Homo sapiens: one gene and its partners. The protein of the gene in region 1 interacts with the protein of each later gene in a biochemical or structural test. Each region holds a gene or a part of one and is shown on either strand. Other genes may lie near its edges.

Region 1 (5,268 bases):
TCACCTTCCATCTCTTATCAGTGACATTCATTATTTTGCTATACTAGAGAACAAACTTTGTGAAATTCTCAATATATTCATCTTTTGCTTTCATGAATGCCAGAAAGTTTATTTTCTCTTCCATTCTAGGCTACAGCTCCAGTTGGAGGTCCAAAACGTGTTCTCGTGACTCAGCAATTTCCTTGTCAGAATCCATTACCTGTAAATAGTGGCCAGGCTCAGCGGGTCTTGTGTCCTTCAAATTCTTCCCAGCGCATTCCTTTGCAAGCACAAAAGCTTGTCTCCAGTCACAAGCCGGTTCAGAATCAGAAGCAGAAGCAATTGCAGGCAACCAGTGTACCTCATCCTGTCTCCAGGCCACTGAATAACACCCAAAAGAGCAAGCAGCCCCTGCCATCGGCACCTGGTAAACTAGCTTTTGAGACTCATTGGATAGTCCTTCTTTGTCGTCGTTGCTAAAAAAGCCAGTGTATATACTTGCACTTATTGTTTGGAGCCTTAGCTTTTATATCTGTTGAGGATGGGGAGAAAATATGGTGTCTGGGTTGAAGTAACAGTGTCTGCCCATGGGCCAGACCTATGCTAAAAATACAGACCTGATTCTCACCCTCTTGGAAGAGTTGGGCACCCAGGGAGGACACAGCATAAATTGGTGTCCTTTTGATTGCTTGTTACTGAGTCTGGATGTAGGGTGCTTGCAGTAAGTGACTTGAAGGGACTGAGATCTAAAGTGTGGGGGAAATCCAGAGAAGTGGGTGAACTGAGGCAGGCTGCGGTGAGGTCACCATGGGCATTGCTGGCCATGTTAAGGAATGGGGCCTCATCTCTAGGGCATTTGGAAGCTACTGAAGCTTTTTTGAACTCAGAAGGGAACTCTGCCTTTTAGAAAGTTTACTGTGGAAGGCCAGGCGCAGTGGCTCACGCCTGTAATCCCAGCGCTTTGGGAGACCGAGGCAGGTGGATCACCTGAGGTCAGGAGTTGGAGACCAGTCTGACCAACATGGAGAAACCCTGTCTCTACTAAAAATACAAAATTAGCCAGGCGTGGTGGTGCACGCCTGTAATCCCAGCTACTCAGGAGGCTGAGGCAGGAGAATGGCTTGAACCCAGGAGGTGGAGGTTGTGGTGAGCCGAGATTGTGCCATTGCATTCTAGCCTGGGCAACAAGAGCAAAATTCTATCTCAAAAAAAAAAAAAAAATTTACTGTGGAAGTACTGAATAAATTGGAGTAGAACGCTGGATTTAGGAGTACCAGACAGGAAGGAGGTTGAGGTCAGAGATGGCAATAACCTGCTCTGTGTGGAGCAGAGTGGATGCAATTATTTACCAACTGTTGAGTGCTCATTCCCTGCAGGCTCTGAGATAAGTGCGTGCTTCATCCACGTCATCTCTTTCAATCTTCGTAACCACTTCATGAAGGTAGCCAGTTATTAACTCAGTTTTACAGAGGAGGAAGCTAAGACTCAGAAGCAGTTAACTTATCCAAAGACAAGCCAGGATGGAGAGGTGCACACAAATTTGAGAGCTCATTTACGATGCAGACTCATTAGAACTGGGCAATAAATTGTACCTGAAAGATGAATAAAGAGGAGTTAGGGATGGTGATTAGATTGATATTAATTGAGTGAGTGTCCTGGGGGTTGAGGGGTGCACATGTGACAGGGGCATCTGGAGGAAGAGTTTGGACCAGCATCCAGATATCTGAGCAGAGCATTGTGTGCTGTTCGAGTTTGCTATGTTGGAGACAGACCAGTGGAAATGTTTCATATGTCCTTGTGGCTGATGAAATAGTTACCCCAGTCCTCTGCTGCACAACTGTTCATTGTGCATTTTGCTGAATTGGTGGCTTTTATTTTTATATTTCCCCTTGGCAGCTAATATAAATGGAGGGTGGCTGGCTTATGTTTTGCTACATGTTGGTGATAATTCGTATGTAGGGTATGGACTGTTGGCTGGCCCACCTAGTAAGGGGAAAAAGGTGACGAGTTGGCAGCTCGTCATGCATGGGAAGATTGGTACTTCTGCCACAAAAGCTCTTCTTTGGAAACTGAGGCTTCAGAAGAGCCTGCATAGTCTGCCTTTAATTTATCAGAGAAGGGCCTGTCTATATATACGTCTGCTCATCTTTAGAAATTCTATAAAGGCTTCACATGATGGAAGTCAGGGTGTAGTAGTCCTTTTTTTCTATAAGGAAAACTTTAAAAAAAAAAAACAGATTTATCATTCTTGACATACCATTAATATTTTGGTGACCAATTCTTTGATTCACCTCTATTCACAGCTTAGCTTATCCTATATAGTTATTCTAAAAACAGGTTTTTAACTTATTCCATATAGAAAATAATCCTGAGGAGGAACTGGCATCAAAACAGAAAAATGAAGAATCAAAAAAGTAAGCTTTCTTATTTACAAAGTTCTGTACTGTTCTACTAGAATATATTATTTCGTTGCAAATTTCGTTGTGGGAACTCTGGGGAAAAAAATGAGGCCTTTATTTGCATTTAGAGGATATAAATGTTTCCAGATTTCCAATCTTAAAAAAAATGGAATTTTGTGTAATGAGGTATTTTACTAGGAACTCAAGTGCTTTAAAAAATGGCTTTCAAATTTAGAAAAAGCTTGTATGAATCTTTTATAGAAATGTGTGGAAGTTCCTCTCTGTCCTTAGAAATAACCACTACATATGGTTTATGCGTCTGTACTTTTTTATTGTACAAAAGTGCAAGTTTTTAAAAAATAGAATATGTTGCAGAACTATATACTCATATATGACTGAGGGTTTTGACAGTATTATAGTTTTAGTTCTTTATTGTAAAGGTTGGCTGTAATGTCTTCCCCAGGGCTTTTCTAAAAGCCTCCTCTCAGTCTCTGAACTATCTGGACTCTAGAATGTACCGGGAGGAGCGAGGAATGAACCCACAGACTCTTTTGCTTTTAGCGGTCTAACAGAGGCTAAGAGTCTAAATCCACTGGTTCTCATGCCCCAGCTAGCCTGTGGGCTCCATCCCGCTTCCATTAGTAACAGTGGCTCTGTCTCCACCACCAGAGTGGTTCTCCACCCAGAGAGAATTAGCACCTCTGGGACTGGAGGGAGCAGCTGGGGTTAGTTTGAAACATGCCCCCAGATGGTCTGGAAGCATTCCTCCCTCTCTGGTCACTTATCCTTTTTGTGGTCTTCAGCGTTGTCATGGCCCTGTTCCTCTGAGCATAGTACGGGCTTGGGACATTTCCCATAGAGTGCTTCAGGTCTAAAACCCGAGACTGCTCCTTGTCACTGACTCTCACACCTGACGGCAGCTAGGGACGTCAGGGTTTCATGTCGTGGCAGCTCTTTGATAGTGGTTATTGCCTTGGTTCTTGCTGAGGATGCATATTGAGTGAAGTTGGAATACGAAATTATTTGTAGAATGTGTCTGCTACTCATTGAAAATTTGTTAGAAAAGCTTTGTTTTCTTCACATTCTAAAGTGTTCAAATTCCTCCTAGGAGGCAGTGGGCTTTGGAAGACTTTGAAATTGGTCGCCCTCTGGGTAAAGGAAAGTTTGGTAATGTTTATTTGGCAAGAGAAAAGCAAAGCAAGTTTATTCTGGCTCTTAAAGTGTTATTTAAAGCTCAGCTGGAGAAAGCCGGAGTGGAGCATCAGCTCAGAAGAGAAGTAGAAATACAGTCCCACCTTCGGTGAGTTTTCAGGTTCATGTTCAAAAGAATGTTCACCAATGCTGCACCCCTCCCCCTCCTGTAATGTCAGCCTCCCACTGCCCAGGTCCCTTCACTCCCTCTTACGAGGCACTGCCTTCAAATGCATGGCCCCGTTCCTCACCTCCCCCTCCCCTATGAAAAAGATTAGATAAGCTTCTGTACTGCACTGGGTTATAAGCATTCTCCTGTGATTCTCCCATGCTCTGCATGTTAAAATAAAATTGTATTCCTTTTTTTTTTTTTAAGTATAAATTTATTTTTTAGAGGGCCTGCTTTTCATAGTACCACAAAAAATGATTAAATTTGTCATCTTTCAAAGAGCACTTAAGTGCTCTGATCCTGGAAAAATCACTTGAGGATTTAATGTTTTGTTAATAGAATAGTTTATATGGGCAAGTCTTTCTGGTGGACAGTGAAGGGGAATGGCACCCCTTATTCTGAGGTATGCAGGAATTGCGAGCAGCTACCTGCAGGTTGACTACGGCTGGTGGGTTTTTGTTTTTCCTTTTTTTCTTTCAGTGTTTTTCAAATTTGAATCAGATGCTAATACTTCAAGTCTGGCCACATCAGGCCTGGTGTGTCTCTGCCTGGCAACACCTGGCTGGGGCTGGGAGGGGCAGGCATCTCACATGGGCTGTGCTTCCCATTGCCTGCTTCCCGCTGGCCACAGTCTGCACCTGCCCAGTCTGCTCAGCACCCATCTACTGCCATTACTGATCACTGCTTTTATCTGTCACAGTGTCTGGGTGTCAAACTACTGTGGCAATGCCATGTCCTTTTTTTTTTTCCTTTTTTTTTTTGAGATGGAGTCTCGCTCTGTTGCCCAGACTGGAGTGCAGTGGCGCAATCTCAGCTCACTGCAACCTCTGCCTCCCAGGTTAAAGCGATTCTCCTGCCTCAGCCTCCTGAGTAGCTAGGATTGCAGGCATGCACCAACAAGCCTAGCTAATTTTTGTATTTTTAGTAGAGACGAGGTTTCACCATGTTGGCCAGGCTGGTCTTGAACTCCTGACCTCGCGATCCTCCCGCCTCGGCCTCCCAAAGTGCTGGGATTACAGGCGTGAGCCACTGTGCCCGGCCATGTCCTTTTTTTAATATGTAGATAATTAATATTCAGCTGAATTTTCCTCCTAAGAATAAAGGTGCCTAAAGGAAGGAAATAGTCTTAACTAAACCAGAGGTCCATTAATACTGTGAAGTGCTTTTAAAATGATATGTGGGTGTATGTATTTTTCTTGGAGTGGGTTTATAGTTTCAGATTCTAAAGTGGGGTTTGGAGTGTGGTTTCATGTGAAACACCACTGGTTTTACATGAAGAGTTTGTTTGACATTTTGTACATAGTCTTCTGTGAGCTCCAAACCAAGTGTTAGAATGTTTATCCTTTGTTGCAGGCATCCTAATATTCTTAGACTGTATGGTTATTTCCATGATGCTACCAGAGTCTACCTAATTCTGGAATATGCACCACTTGGAACAGTTTATAGAGAACTTCAGAAACTTTCAAAGTTTGATGAGCAGAGAACTGCTACTGTAAGTGTTCATTTATTGTCCAGGCTAATTGTGTTTCC
Region 2 (5,268 bases), on another chromosome or scaffold:
ACTGCAACCTCCACCTCCGGGGTTCAAGTGATTTTCCTGCCTGAGCCTCCCGAGTAGCTGGGATTATAGGCATGCACCACCATGTCTGGCTAATTTTTGTAGTTTTAGTAGGGTTTCACCATGATAGCCAGGCTGGTTTTTCAAACTCCTGACCTCAGGTGATCTGCCCACCTCTGCCTCCCAAAGTGCTGAGATTGCAGGTGTGAGCCATCATGCCTGGACAGAGGTTTGTTGTTGTTGTTGTTGTTGTTGTTGTTGTTGTCCGTTTTCTTCTTTAAAAAAAAAATTCTTGGGTGAATGCCATCTAAGATCTATTTATATTCCTTTTGTCAATTGGATTAGAACATTCTTTGAACTTGTCATTATACTGTAGTTGATCTAATATTTTTAACCTATTTACTTTGAAAATTAGGGTTCAGAAATCTTAAGGTCTTCTTTAGGAGAAAGGAATTTATTGAGTCTCTCTGTTCTCTGTCAGTTGCTGTTTATACCGTAATGACTAAATAATTCCACCGATTCTCTCCTTTTTGTAAAAATATTTGGAGTCAATTAGTATTGACTTTGAGGTCTCTCAGGTGTGGCTCCTTCAATTTTCCTTTGGACTGCCTAGTTTTTTTGCATTTGCCTCACCGCAGTTGGGCTCATTTGTACATTTGGACAAGCTTTTGAAGGTTTTGTTGTTGTTGTTGTTGTTATTTTTGTTATTTTTTATTTATTTATTTTTTTGCCAGTTAGCCATAGTAACTGTGACTTTGAGGCACATTTCTTTCTTTTGTGTTTTTAGCATTGTCATGTAAAATAATCTCCATTTTTCTATGAACTTTTTATTTTAATCTCTATCAGCCTTTTTCCCTAGCCAATATCAATATTCCAAAAATTGAATAACCCCAGCGTAGATTTTTTTGACTTTCTCTTTAGCCAGGATCATAAATTTAAATATGTTGTGATTACTACCGCATAATATTTCACACACTGAATTCATGGATTTTCTAGTAATATTTCTCCATTATTTGGCTCTCAATCAAGCTTCTTCTTTTTTTTTTTTTTTGAGAGGGAATCTTACTCTGTCTCCCAGGCTGGAGTGCAGTGGCGTGATCTTGGTTCCCTGCAACCTCCACCTCCCAGGTTCAAGCGATTCTCCTGCCTCAGCCTCCTGAATAGCTGGGACTACAGGCAAGCGCCACCACGCCTGGCTAATTTTTGTATTTTTAGTAGAGACGGGGTTTCGCAACATTGGCCAGGCTGGTCTTGAACTCCTGGACTCAAGTAATCTGCCCGTCTCAGCCTCCCGAAGTGCAGGGATTACAGGCATGAGCCACTGCACCCGGCCCTCAAGCTGATTTCATTTTACTGTGTATTCTACCAAACCTTTTTGTTCTAATCGATCACTTGTCCTGTACTAGATCTTCCCAGTACACTTTTATCACATTAAGATATTCAGTAAATATATTCGAAATCTGGCAGTTTAATCTGGTATTCTCCCCTGTAACAGTGAGTTTTATCTCAGATATCTTCTGAGTAAATTCCAGTGGCACATTTGTTTGCCTGCTTACCTGCCGCCTTCACTACTAAGGTTTCTTAAATCCTATTATGGGGCAAACTCTGCTAGGAACAACATATAAAGTTTTTTTGTAGTCTCTGCTGTCAAAGAGTTCGTTAGGTAGTCGTAGCAAGTATAGATATAAATATAACTACTTTTACTATTTCTTTGATAGAATCTACTTTCTTGTCTGGTATTATTATTATTTTTTGAGATAGAGTCTTGCTCTGTCACCCAGGTTGGAGTGCAGTGGCATGATCTCAGCTCACTGCAACCTCCACCTACCAGGTTTAAGCAATTCTCCTGCCTCAGCCTCCAGAGTAGCTGGGATTACAGGTGCATGCCACCAAGCCCGGCTAATTTTTGTATTTTTAGTAGAGATGGGGTTTTACCATGTTGGCCAGGCTGGTTTTGAACCTCTGACCTCAGTCGATCTACCTGCCTCGGCCTCCCAAAGTGCTGGGATTACAGGCATAAGCCACCACGCCCAGCACTTGTCTGGTATTATTTTTATGTCTGGTGCATTATTTACTCTGTCACTCACATTTAGTACTATCTCCCAAGCTCCTCTTCTCTTACTAGTTCTTTTTTTTTTTCTGTAGAGATGGGATCTTGCTAGGTTGCCCAGTCTAGTCTCAAACTCCTGGACTCAAGTGATTCTCCCATCTTGGCCTTCCAAAGTGTTGGGATTACAAATGTGAGCCATGGCACCCACCCTGTTTCTAGTTTCTGAAAGTGCTTATGTTACTGGCGTAAAGTTCTTGGCTCTCAGTGTAATAGAAATTAACAAGAGGCCAGGCAAACTTTTCCTAGACAGGGGTTGTTAGGGCTTATGCCTGGAAAGATTGGGTATTAAGAGAGACAGCACAGGAGAAAGGGTTCTCTGGCTGGCTCTCCAAGGGAGTGCATTATGGTGTCTTCAGGAGGGTGATATGCATAATGCATGAGGTAGCTGAGTGTCATTACATATGCGAGGTGGAGTGCAGGGTGTGCAGACAAGTAAGGAATCATGCTAACTCATATGTTGATCATGATCAGAAAATCTCCCTGGGCGGAGATTTTAGTATTTCAATCCTAGAGATTTTAATATTACAATCCTAGGGGTTAGGATCGTCATTCTAATTCTAGATCGTCATTCTAGAATTTGCCAGGAGGCCATTCTCACATGCAGCCCTTGTGCACATGCAGGCGATAGAGTTAATTCCCTTGAGTAAGATTTGTGGTGGAATGCTGCTTATCTTAGTTTTTTCAGACAGCTTGCAAGGTCTGGTCAATGGGTATGGTGTCAGTGGGGGTGGTGCTGCAAGGTCTGGTGGTCAGTGCGCATGTATGGAAAAATACGTGAGTGAAGGTGAGATGATCCCCGCCACCCCACTACCCTGTCTCGCTTATAGCATGGTAGTGTGGAATTCTCTTCAGATCTTTGATTACATGTCTTTGATGCCAGTTATGCCAGCATCCTCCTTTTATATGAGTATTCCTATTCATTTAAAGGCTTTGGAACTTTTATAAAGCTGTATCCATTCATACTTTTCTTAACTATTTTTTATTAACCAGGTTCTGGCTAGATACTGGGATACGAATAGAAATTGAGAGTTCCTGCTCTCAATCTCCCAGTTTGGTGATCATGGTTGGGGTGGCAGACATGCAAATAATCACAAAGATTTACACTATTTCATGATAGGTGATAGGTTTACAAGGTTTGGAGGGAACGTGGACAAGGGAAATTAACCTATGCTTGATAAATCAGGAAGGGCCTGAGTAGGGCCTGTGCCTCACAGATAGTGGGGCTAGTCCAGATAACCTCATCAGGTGAAAATCAGGGCAGCATCATTACATCCTGTTTCTCTACTTCACTGGGTCAGAGCCCATCTTCAGACAGGTGGCTATGTCCCTTAATTCCCTACTTCCTGCTTTAAGAGGGGCATTATCTGCTTTATCTGGAGAAAAGAAAGGAGAGGGAAGTCACCTGAATGAGGCTGGGAAAAGATCCACATTTCTTTCAGTCTATGACAGAGACATGTCCAACCGCAGAATTTCTTGGACTGCATCTTCTTTATTAATGGATTCGAAACTGTATTGCAATACGTTAGATCATGACTCTCTTGCTGTGGCATCCATCTGTATTTCTTCAGGAAAGTTGAATTAAATTTAGACCAGGTGTGTCATTTGGGTCACTTAGCAGCTCAATCAGTAGTCCTGTCTTCTTCAGAACAGAAAGCTAAAACACATTAATTGTTTCACCTACCTTTAAAAATTTTGCCATATCTTTCATGCTCTGCTGCAATAGTATTCCTTTTGTATCTGTCACCAGTGGTTGACATGTGGCAAGTCCTGTTCTCACTTGGAAATTTCCTTTCGTATTCATATTGAATACAATAGAGTGAAGTAATTTTGTTGTTTAAGTTTTTTTCAACGAAAAAAATTAAATGTCATTTATAATTTAGTTTAATATAGAGAAGTTTATAAAAGAAAAGAAAAATGACCCATACTGCTACTCTGAAACCCCTAGTAATATTAAAAATAAGATTAATATATTTAGGTAAACAGAACATTCAGATAGTACCAGTAGGTATAAAACGAAAGTCTGGCTTTTCCTCCTGCCCCACTGCCCTGTCCCCTCTCTTAGATCATGGCTCCTTAAAGGTAACTAGTGTCAATAGCTTCATATTATTATTATTTTTAAATGTATATATGCATACCAGCATTTATGTGTTTTCAGTCTTTTAATATATCTATCAATAATTTTATTCATTTGTTTATTCATCTAAAAAATATTTGTTGAGGGCCTCTTCTGCCCCAGACAGAATGTTTCACCCTGGGGATACAGCAGCAAACGAAACAGAAAACGTTGCTCTTCTCATGGCACTTAGAGTCTAGTTGAGAGAGAGAGACAAAAAATGTAAATGAACAAGAAAACAAGATAACTTCAGTTTGTTCAAAATGCTGCAAATGAAATAGAGTGGTTTGATATGATGATGCAGTTAGGTAAGGTGATTGATGAAGGCCTCTGCTTATACAATTTATTAAACTTTACTGAAAGAAGAAAAACATGGAATGACTCAGTTAATTCTTGATTTATGCTATTTTTATTTCTAAAGGTGAAACCTCACCTGCTATCCAGCTGCCCACACCTGCAGTCCAGAGCCCAAGCCCTGTCACACTTTTCCAGCCCAGCGTCTCCAGTGCTGCTCAGGTGGCTGTCCAGGATCCAAGTCTACCTGTCTATCCAGCACTCCCACCCCAACGCTTTACTGGGCCTTCCCAAACAGACACTCATCAGCTGCATTCTGAAGCCACTCACACTGTGAAGCAACCCACTCCTGTCTCTCTAGAGAGCGCCAACAGGATTTCAAGTAGTGCAAGTACTGCCCATGCCAGATTTGCAACTTCGACCATCCAACCTCCTAGGGAGTATTCCAGCGTTTCCCCTTGTCCCAGAAGTGCTCCAATCCCCCAGGCTTCTCCCATTCCACACCCACATGTCTACCAGCCCCCTCCCCTTGGCCATCCAGCCACACTGTTCGGGACACCACCAAGATTCTCTTTTCATCACCCTTACTTCCTACCCGGACCTCACTACTTCCCATCAAGGTAAATTAACATTTTTTTTCCTTTTACCTAAACATTCAGCTAATGAGTTTTTACCTGTGACAACATTTTTTTGTTTATTTGTTTTTAAATACTGAAAAGCAGACTTCTTCAATTCTGCTGACTAGGAGCCAAGC
Region 3 (5,268 bases), on another chromosome or scaffold:
TTTTTGTATTTTTGTAGAGACGGAGGTTTCACCATCTTGGCCTGGCTGGTCTTGAACTCCTGACCTCGTGATCCACCCGCTTCAGCCTCCCAAAGGGCTGGGATTACAGGCGTGAGCCATCGCGCCCGGCATATTTTTATATATTTTAAACTTTGCTTGTAAATTTAAATATTTTAAAAATATGTTTGTATCTCAATTTATTTATATTTTATTTCATTTTCCATATATTTTGTAGGCATAAAACAGATTTATGTTTTAAAATGTTTGTATCCTTTTAAATTAGACGCACCTTTATATGATTACAGGTACTTAAACTTCACGAGTGGGTTGTGCAAGGTTACTAGAAAAGACACTGGGGGAAAAATAAGTGATTCCATTTGTTTTTGTGAATTCAAATTAAATATTTGGTTTGTACAATCTGTTTTCCTTTTTTGGGGGGGCGGGGGGGGGGCGGGTAAGAATTGTAGTCCAGATACGTTTCTCTCTTAATTTAGCAAGCGTTAACAAGTTGACCTCCTCCTTGCCAGGCACCAGCAATCCTAAGATAAGACACAGTCTCTTCACTCAAGGAGCTCCCAGTCTAAACAAGTGTCTTTCAGGCTTTTTCAGCCTCCTCTCTGTCCTATGTTCAGCACACATTCTATCAGTACTTCTTCATCCTACAGAAGCATATTTAGTTTGACAGTGCCCCCAAGGGATTCTTAAATATTCTAGGTTTTTCAGCTCCTTCCCAGATCCAGACCTGTTGAAAGACTTGTCCAGAGCAGACTTGAATTTTCTAGTAAATAATTATTTTTAATCTTCAAAGAAAATTTTGTCCACCTGGATTTTCAGTGATATTAGATGCTAGTTAGTGATATTTTGTAAAGCTGCCTAGCAAGAATAACTATGGTTAGTGTTTTTAGTGTCAAATGAACGTGTAAGTAAAAATTTGGCAAGAATTTCTCTGCATTAGGGGAAAACATTCAGCAGGACCTGATCTCATTTTAAAATGCTGATTGTAGCCCCACAACATATTCCTGATTGTTTTTTCTTTTTTACTGTATTAAATCGCAGATCAGCTATACACACTTCTGGTGACTACATTTTATGAGTTGCTTTTTGTTTTTCTTTTTTAGGTGGGCGTATTATTGATAAGTTTTTTTTGTTTTTTGTTTTTTTGAGACGGAGTTTTGCGCTTGTCACCCAGGCTGGAGTGCGGTGGGGTGATGTTGGCTCACTGCAACCTCTGCCCCTGCAGGTCCAAGCGATTATTCTGCCTCAGCTTCCCAAGTAGCTGGGACTACAGCATGCCACCACGCCCCGGCTAATTTTGTATTTTTAGTAGTTTCACCATGTTGGCCTGGCTGGTCTCGAACTTTCCATCCTCAAGTGATCCACCCGCCTCGGCCTCCCAAAGTGCTGGGATTACAGGCATGTGCCACCGCGCCTGACCTTGATATGATATTTTCAAAGAGTCCTTTAGGTCATTTTAATACAAACATGCCATTTAATGTAAAACAGAAATATTGATTTTATTATTTGGACGGTGCATATTCTTTCGGTATGTTTTCTTGGATTAACTTTTGCTTAGAACTAAAAACCAAAGACTTCTACTTTATCCCCTGTAGTGACCCTGTTGGCCACATTCTTGTGGCTTACCATAGTGTTTTGATCATTTAAATTGAAGCTAGTTTGTATGAGTATTCTGGAAAATCCGGTAAAAGCTTCTTACTTAGATGAGTGGTTCTCAAAGAGGGGTGGGAAATGGGAGTATAGCAGAATCATCTGGGGAACTTCATTCAAACTATAAGTGCTAAGTTTATTTTGGAGGAAGTGAAGTGGAATGAGTAGAATCTAATGCATTTGGGAGGAGGTTAGTATGGAAAACTGCTGCTGGGTGAATAAGAGTGCCAGCTCTGTTCCCAACCACAGTCTTGATCCAGGTATTTAAAAACTGGGATGTGCCAGTTGATATAGTATGTCTATTATGTGTCATATATGTGATAATATGAAACTGTTTAGAATTTGCTTTTTCCTGATTATGAAAGGGCAGCATTCTTTCAAGAAGTCCCCTGTAATTCCACAATCCAGAGATAACCGTTGTTGAAATTTTGATATATTTTTGTTTAAAGATACTTAACATACTTTGTAAAATTCACATGCTTTACATCATTAGAATATTCTTTACATAGCTTTATGAGTTAATTTTTCATGTAGTATTACATCATGAACATTTTCCCTTGTCATTGAAATGTCTTCAAAAATACCGAAAAGCGATTTGCTGTGTGATAGAAAAGTTTTTCTTAAAGTATTTTTTAACATATTACCACGAAGCTGAACTTGACTATTACAATATGAGTTGTAGAATATTAGCACTGTGTAAAGTTCCATAGCAAAATGTGATTGTGTTACATTTTTGGCCCACTTACAGTTTTATGAAAATCGTGGGATGTGTTTGTACCTGTTTTGTTTTTTAAATTCATTTTTCATTTAACTTTGACCTGTCAGATGTCTGAATTTGTGACACTGCTTGTGATCTCTTAGTGCGTATCTCCCTTTTCTTTCTTGTGAAACAGGTATAGTACTCTTAAGATTTAGTTAGGCTGACAGACTACACTTTTAACTTTTCCTATTCAAGACAGGCTGGAATGCAGTGGCTTGATCATGGCTCACTGCAGCCTCGACTTCCTGGTCTCAATCGATCCTTCTGCCTCAACCTCCCTAGTGGATGGGACCACAGGCACATGACACCTTGGCTGGCTAATTTTTTTTATTTTGGTAGAGACGGGGTCTCCCTATGTTGGTTGCCCAGTCTGGTCTTGAACCCTTGTGCTCAAGCAATCCTCCAGCCTTGGCTTCCCAAAGTGTTGGGATTACAGGTGCGAGGTGCTGCGCCCAGCCTGTAGTGTCCTTTTGAAGGTTAAAAAAAATGAATGGATTTGAAAAATGAAATCGATTAATGAAAGCATATTAAAGCCCTCCATTTTAAAATGACAGCTTTATCCAGATATAATTCACATACCATACAGTTTGCCTATTTAGAGGATATGATTTTTAGTATACTATAGAGTTGTGCAGCCATCACCACAGTGAACTGTATAATATTTTCAAACACATATACCCCCCAAAAAACCCTGTTCCCGGTAGCAGACACCCCATTTCTCTCCATTCCCTCCCGGCCCCCACTAATCTACTTTTTTTTGTCTCTTAGATTTGCCTATTCTGGACGTTTCATGCAAGTGAAATCATACAATATGTTGTCTTTTGTGACTGGTTTCTTTTAATGTTTTTAACATTCATCTTTGTTGTAGTATGTATCAGTACTTTATTCCTTTTATGGCTGAATAATATTCCATTGTATGTATACACCACATTTTTAATTCATTCATCAGTTGATGGACATTTTGTTTTCTTTCGGCTATTGTGAATACTTGTAGTGCTGCTATCAACATTTGTGTAGAAGTTTTTTTTTGTGGGCATATACTTTCAATTCCGTTGGGTATATAGCTGGGAGTGAGATTTCTAGGTCATATGGTAGCCCTATGTTTAACTTTTTGATGAGCTGCCAGGTTGTTTAAGGCCTCTTTACTGATTAAATTGTTTAATTCTGACCCAGCAACCTAAAGGTTAGGTGGTTGGAAAGAAGTGTCAGTTGTTGCCGACAACCTCCACTTCTGTAGGGAAGGTGTTTTGTGTGGATGTGCAGCTAGACTTGTTAGAAAAAAGAGCATGTTGGGGAGTGGGGGAGATCACCCGAGGAATATTTTATCTCCTTGATTCTTCTGGATGAGATACTAGAGGAGACATAAGGTCGTGGCATATTTTTTAACTGATTCAGAGATTAGGTGTTTGTTTTCTCTGAATTAAGTTCAGCAAGTAAGGGAAACTGACAGTTTGAAGAAGTAGCCCAGAGGTGTTTTTATTTTGCTATCTGAATGCAGACCTGGAGCTTTTCTGGTAAATATCTAAATCCAAGATGAAGATTCGTTGGGATTTAATACATTATTTAAATTGAGTCTAGAGACAAAGCCACATTAAGAGTCAGGATTAGTGGGGAAGATAGTTGCATCTAGTAGGTCTTTTTCTTCCTTATTCTCCACGTTTATTACTTTTAAAAGAGTATACATTCCAATGCCATGCATTTTTAATTTTTTTTAATTAATTTTTTTTTTTTTTGGAGGCAGGGTCTGGCTCTGTCACCCGGTTGGAGTGCAGTGGCATGAACATGGCTCACCTGCAGCCTCAACCTTCTGGGCTCAAGTGATCCTTCTACCTCAGCCTCACAAGTAGCTGGGACCACAGGCATGCACCACTAATTAAAAAAAATTGGTAGACACAGAATCTTACTTTGTTGCCCAGGCCAGTCTCAGAGTTCTGGGATTACAGGCACCCAGCCCCATTTTCAAACATTTCTAACAGGTAAAGTAATACAGGTATGAAGGAATGTTAAGATTCTTAGAAATACTGACTTAAATTCTGTTATGTATTTCTGAAAGGTTATTCTCGAATGTTGGTGGCATATAGGGAGGCAAGGGGAAGAAATAGTTTGTAAATGTCAGTAGGTTTAGCAGTGGTGTGGTAGATGGGGATTCCCAGTGGAGTCTTCTAGGATTTGTGATTGGATACAGATTGATACCCTTAGGCAGCAGCCACTGCTTCTAGCAGCTTTAAATAGCCATTTCAAGGCTTATTCAAGTATAAATAACCAGTAGCCAGTTTTTTCCTGATTTGATAGAGGAAGTCAGTCCTTGGTCTAGATGGGTACTTGTCATACAGTAGGAAAAAGGGCGGGGGCAGTTGTCCTTTATTCTGCCTCTGCACTATTCACATGTGGAGCACAGTGATTTGTGAGAGTATGTATAACCTTCGTGAACATCACTGGCCTCAGAACCCTCCCTTGCCAAATTTACCTGCATCTGTGCAAAGACAAGTGGAGATATTGATGATATGTGCATATCCCAGAGGGAATAGCGTTTGCTTTTTGATGCATGCCCACCCTTGCATAATTGGGAGGTTTTAACATAGCATATTTCACCATAAAGGAATTTTATTCTAAGAATGTTAATCAGAATATCCCTAAGTAACAGAAGTTCCCATCTGGTCAGTTGCAAGGTGACCAAAACACTTTCTTGGTTTGAGTATAGTCATATGTTCTGTCAAATGATGTTTTGGTCAACAGTGGACTTCATGTAAGGTAGTTAGTGGTCCTGTAAGATTAGAATGGAACTGAGAAATTCCTGTCACTTAGTGACATCATAGGCATAATGTCATAGTGCAATGCATTAC
Region 4 (5,268 bases), on another chromosome or scaffold:
ACCAGGGAAGTGACAAAGAAAGCTGGATGCAAGTAGCCTATCTCTGCTTCTCTTCTTTAATCTCTTAATCTATGGTTTGAAAATAACTGCCAAACGAAGCCAGGAGCAGTGGCTTATGTCTATAATCCAAGTACTTTGGGAGGCCAAGGCAGGCAGATCGCTTGAGCTCAGGAGTTTGAGAGCAGCCTGGGCAACATGGCAAAACTCCATCTCTACCAAAAATACACAAACTACTGAGGTGTGGTGGGGAGAGCATGTAGAACTAGGTACTCAGAAGGCTGAGGTGTGAGGATGGCTTGAGCCTGGGAGGTGGAGGTTGCAGTCAGTCAAGACTGTGCCATTACACTCTAACCTGAGACAGAGCCAGACTCTGTCTCAAGAAAAAAAAAAAAAAGAAAAAAAGAAAAAGAAAATAAATAACTGCCAAATGAATCTATACGTTGAATTTGATTTTAATTAAATTTTTTTTAAAAACCAGACTAATTGTTTTCCTGAATTGACATTCCTTTGGTTAATGTTGTTAGTCTCTGCATAGATAAAGGAATGAAATTATCTGATGGAAATGTTTTGAATCATAGAATAATTAACTGAAAGTCAGGAAAATTTAGCTTGATTTGTTAAATTAGGTCATCATAAGTTCTTAGTGAAGTATGTTTACTTACCAGAAGAATGTTGATATTCTTGAATACTTCTTTTAGTGAAAAGTGTATCTTTTGCTTTCCATAAGTTCTGTAACTAGTAATGACATGCCTATTATTCATGGGTTTTTGAATTACCTGTTCTTTATATATTGCTTTCTCTTCAGTGTTGCCCTGGAAACTGTCCACCTTGTGATCAAAACTGTGGACGGACTTTAGGATGTAGAAACCATAAGTGTCCATCTGTCTGTCACAGAGGTAAACTTTAATAATAGCTATGATTTTATGTTTGTAGTGATGTAGTGGTTTTTTTTTTCATTGTCAATATTCAATATAATGTATTGAAATAGCGTTTTATAGTCATTATCTCACTTGACTCTCTTAACCTGGAGAAGAAGGTAAGGCAGTTTGCCAGTGTCTCTATTTTATAGGCAAAGAGGTTGAAGCTTAAGAGGGTTCAGTAACTTACTCAGGGAAATGTCTAGTACATTTGAACCCAGGATTTCTGTATATAAAAGTATTGTCCTTTCTATAACACCATATTGTTTTCCCACTTCCTGACTTTCCCCACATAATTTTTTAATCAATGAAGGTGTTCATAGCATTTTGAACACCTTATTTATTCTGAATTTTATATACTTATTTGTAGTTAAATCTAGTAAAGGATTAGATATGTCCGAAGCTGGTGATTTTTAAACATTTTGATGTCATGACCCCTTTACAATCCTTTGGTCCCCAAAGGGCTTTTGTTAATGTGAGTTTTATTCATTGACATTTATTGTATTTGAAATTAAAATAAAATGTAATAATATTTATTATTTTTTAAAAATAGCAGTAATAAACCCATTATATCTTAATACAAATAATGTTTTATGAAAAATAACTATTTTCTGAAAAAAGTAGAAAATTTTACATTTTTACAAATGTCTTTAATGTCTAGCTTAACAGAAAATAGCCGGATTCACATATATGCTTCTGTATTCAGTCTGCTATGGACATCACTTTTCACTAGCTTCTGGAAAACTATGCATGTGAGACCTTGCAGACCTCCTGAAAGGGTCTCAAGAACCACTAGGGTTCCTGGACTATACTTTGAGAATTATGTTATAAGTTATTACTAGACATTAAAAACTGAGTTAACTTCACTCATTTGGATTATGTTGATATGAAATGGAATCTACTGAGATATGGTATACAGTATTGGAAAGATCGTGGACTTAGAGTAAGAAATCCTGGATTTAAGCCTAGACTCTGCCATTTAGTAGTTTAATACCTAGAACAAACTACTGAACTGTTTCTCAGTTGATCTCCCTATCCTTTCAGAAATCCTGCAGCATATAGGGATATGTGGAACAGGCCGGGAGACTATTGGCCCAAGGTTAATAGAACTAGTCGCAGAGTCAGGATGTGAACCCAGTGTTTATGTTATTTCCATTATACTACATTCCTTCCCCATTAGGAAAAGTGTCAGATTCTATTTACCCTGTAGACATTTCCTGTAGGTGTTCTTTGATTTGTCAGTGAAGTTTAGAAATAGTTTTTCAGGTATGCTCTCACCAACACTAGAAAGATTTTATTTTCTTTTATAGTCATTACATCACTGACCCATTGAGTTTTTGCAGATTTTTGCAAACTACATCTCTGTGATATAACTGGTTTAACAGTAGTAAATCTAATATTATGTAATTTACCACATTAAAAGACCAAAGGAGGAATGAGATCATCTTGATAAATGTCTAACATCTATATAAGATAAAAATTTAATTGGAAATAGACATATCCTTAACCTGATAAAGAGTATCTGCAAAAAGTTTAGAGCAAATATCATACTTACTGGAGAAGTGTTGGAAGCATTTCCCTGTCTCATATTTTTGTGAAGCAAAGCCCATAAATATTTCAGTATTTGTCTCTAAAAGATGGATTCTTAACCTAAATGTAGTTAACATATTTCTTCATATCAGCAAACATCTGGTTTTCAAATTTCTTGTTGTCTCATAAGTAACTTCATTTTTTACATCAGTTTATAGACTCAAAAACCTAATAAAATTGACATGTTGTAATTGGTTTTGTCTCTAAAGTCTTTTAATTTATAATTTCCATCCTCTATCTCCTTTTTTCCCCTTATGACTTATTTGTTGAAGAAACTAGGTTGCTTTATTTAGTTTCTCAGAGTCTGAGTTTTGCAGATTGCATCTCTGTGGTATTATTTAACATGTTCCTCTGTCCTCTATATTTTTGATAACCTGTTAATTGGATCTAGAGGTTTGATCAGATTCAGGTTTTGATATTTTTTGGTAGAGTGGTGTTTTTTTGTTTGTTTTGTTTTTATAGATTTCTATTAATCCTTAGAAAAGCTTATTAGTCACAACAAAATTTTCCTTGATGTAAAGTATGTGGAAGATGCTGTTGTGCAACTGTCAATATTTGTTTCATCTACAGTTATAAAAGAATGTGGAATCATAATTTCATACCATTTTTCCATCATTCTAGAATCCTTCATAATCAGAATTATACAGTAATTTATAGGGGGAATATACTAACTGCATGTTTGTGTTGTGGGTATGTGAAAATTTGATTTATAGTTTTGTTTTGTTCTTTGAGACGGAGTCTCTCTCTGTCACCAGGCTGGAGTGCAGTGGCGCAATCCCGGCTCACTGCAACCTCTGACTCCCCATTTCAGGTGATTCTCCTGCCTCAGCCTCCCGAGCAGCTGGCATCACAGGCATATGCCACCATGTCCAGCTAATTTTTGTATTTTTAGTAGAGCCGGGGTTTCACCATGTTGGCTAGGATGGTCTCGATCTCCTGACCTCGTGATCTGCCTGCTTCGGCCTCCCAAAGTGCTGGGATTACAGGCATGAGCCACAGCGCCCAGCCGATTTATAGTTTTTTTTTTTAAATTCAGGATCATCTGTGTTTATAGTTTTAGAACTACCCGAATCATGCCTATTTTGGCTATTAACTGGTATTGGTCAGTATAGTTATAGTCTCCCTATGCTATTTCTTCATTTTGAAAGTATTATGGAAGCTCTTTTAATTATAATAAATTCTGTTGGTCAGTAGGGAGACTGTTTAGAGAAATTGTCCCTTATTTTCAAGATGTAATTTAAATGTGATACTGTTGTTTAGAATAACAAAAAGGTTACGTTTGATAACAAAAAGGTTCCTCTGCTGAAGATGAATGAAAAATTGTCATTGTTAAGTATAGAAACAGATATAATATGCCGAATGAGAACCGACTTAAATATCACTATCAACTTTAAAAATACAACTTGTAGTCATTCTTTAGGTAAAATAAAAATAAAACTTGATATGTGGGTTAGGATAACTTGACTTGCATTAACATCAAGAATATATGTGTCAAAACACATTTGGTGTTTTGTATAATAAATGTTATGTTTGACCCTACGATGTTTTACCTCTAATCTTCTCTTTTTCTGTGTTCATTATTTGAATTATAATTCTTAATTTGTGTTTGTTTTAGGGAACTATTTTGAACTTCTAGAGGCACTTAAGCCAGGATATTGTCCATCTTTAATCTTTTTTTTATCAGGTTAACTCCCGGTCCATGTTTTGCTTGGTCCTGACACCTAGGCAACAGTCTCTTTAAGATATTCATTTCTTCATTGAAAACTCTTCTTCCTTTATTATTTCATTTCTGATAGAGTTCCTTACTGGGAAAACTAGAGTGGAAGAAAGCCCTTAAGATGATGACAGAACCTCTTGGAGCGAACTTTATAGCCTGCTTTAAAGATTTCTTTGATTTTGTTTTTTTATATTTTTGCCAACCCATAACAAAAGAGCGTAAAAAGCTGAAACCAAAATAACATTTTTTTTTATGTTTAGAAGAGAAATATTTGGGATTATATCCTAAAATGGTGGCTTAGTACTTAGTCTTTCACAAAGCACAATTAATGGAAAATTGACTGTGCTTGCTACTAACCAATATCAGGTCATGAGAAAGAAGTTATTGGGAATTCATCTAAAAATTGTGTACTTGGATAGATGTATGAAAGTAGGCCAACGATATTATTGTTAATGTTAAATTTTCCAAAGACTTAAATCCATTTTTGCTTGTTTTAGTTTTGAATGAGTAATGTGTTAAATTTGTTATTTAGAACAGAAGTTTTAGCACATTTTAGAGAAATGTCTAAAACTTTATGAGGTACCAGTGTACAGAGAAAAAAGTGTTATAAATCAGAGGCTGGGTGCAGTGGCTCACGCCTGTACACCCAGCATTTGGGAAGCTGAGGTGGGAAGATTGCTTGAGTCCAGGAGTTTGAGACCAGCCTGGATGACATAGTGAGACCCCTCCATCTCTATAAATAATCAAAAATTAGCTGGGCATGGTGGTGTGTGTCTGTAGTCCCAGCTACTTGGAAGGCTGACGTGGGAGGATTGCTTGAGCCCAGAAAGTTGAGGCTGCACTGAGCTGTGATCATGCAACAGCACTCAGCTTGAGCAACAGGTTGAGACCCTGTTACAAAAAAAAAAAGAGAAAAGTATTACAAATAAAAAGTATACAGCTTGTTGAATTTTTACAAACTGAACATAGCCAGGTAACCAAAACTTACATCATTAAACAGAACATGACCAAAATTTTCAACACCTTCCTTGCATCCTTCATAGC

Evidence for each region.
Region 2: the proteins of AURKA (region 1) and SOX30 form a complex in vitro, tested with the Homo sapiens proteins (one study listed by BioGRID).
Region 3: the proteins of AURKA (region 1) and PPP1CB form a complex in vitro, tested with the Homo sapiens proteins (one study listed by BioGRID).
Region 4: the proteins of AURKA (region 1) and NFXL1 form a complex in vitro, tested with the Homo sapiens proteins (one study listed by BioGRID).

What each region holds. Positions count from the first base shown.
Region 1 is NC_000020.11:56,381,395-56,386,662, reverse strand, and holds part of AURKA (aurora kinase A), read left to right. Parts: intron 1-129; coding exon 130-406; intron 407-2,338; coding exon 2,339-2,393; intron 2,394-3,486; coding exon 3,487-3,678; intron 3,679-5,091; coding exon 5,092-5,230; intron 5,231-5,268. UniProt on the Homo sapiens protein: Mitotic serine/threonine kinase that contributes to the regulation of cell cycle progression.
Region 2 is NC_000005.10:157,638,096-157,643,363, reverse strand, and holds part of SOX30 (transcription factor SOX-30), read left to right. Parts: intron 1-4,641; coding exon 4,642-5,134; intron 5,135-5,268. UniProt on the Homo sapiens protein: Acts both as a transcriptional activator and a repressor. Binds to the DNA sequence 5'-ACAAT-3' and shows a preference for guanine residues surrounding this core motif. Binds to its own promoter and activates its own transcription.
Region 3 is NC_000002.12:28,753,905-28,759,172, forward strand, and holds part of PPP1CB (serine/threonine-protein phosphatase PP1-beta catalytic subunit), read left to right. Parts: intron 1-5,268. UniProt on the Homo sapiens protein: Protein phosphatase that associates with over 200 regulatory proteins to form highly specific holoenzymes which dephosphorylate hundreds of biological targets.
Region 4 is NC_000004.12:47,886,241-47,891,508, reverse strand, and holds part of NFXL1 (NF-X1-type zinc finger protein NFXL1), read left to right. Parts: intron 1-805; coding exon 806-896; intron 897-5,268.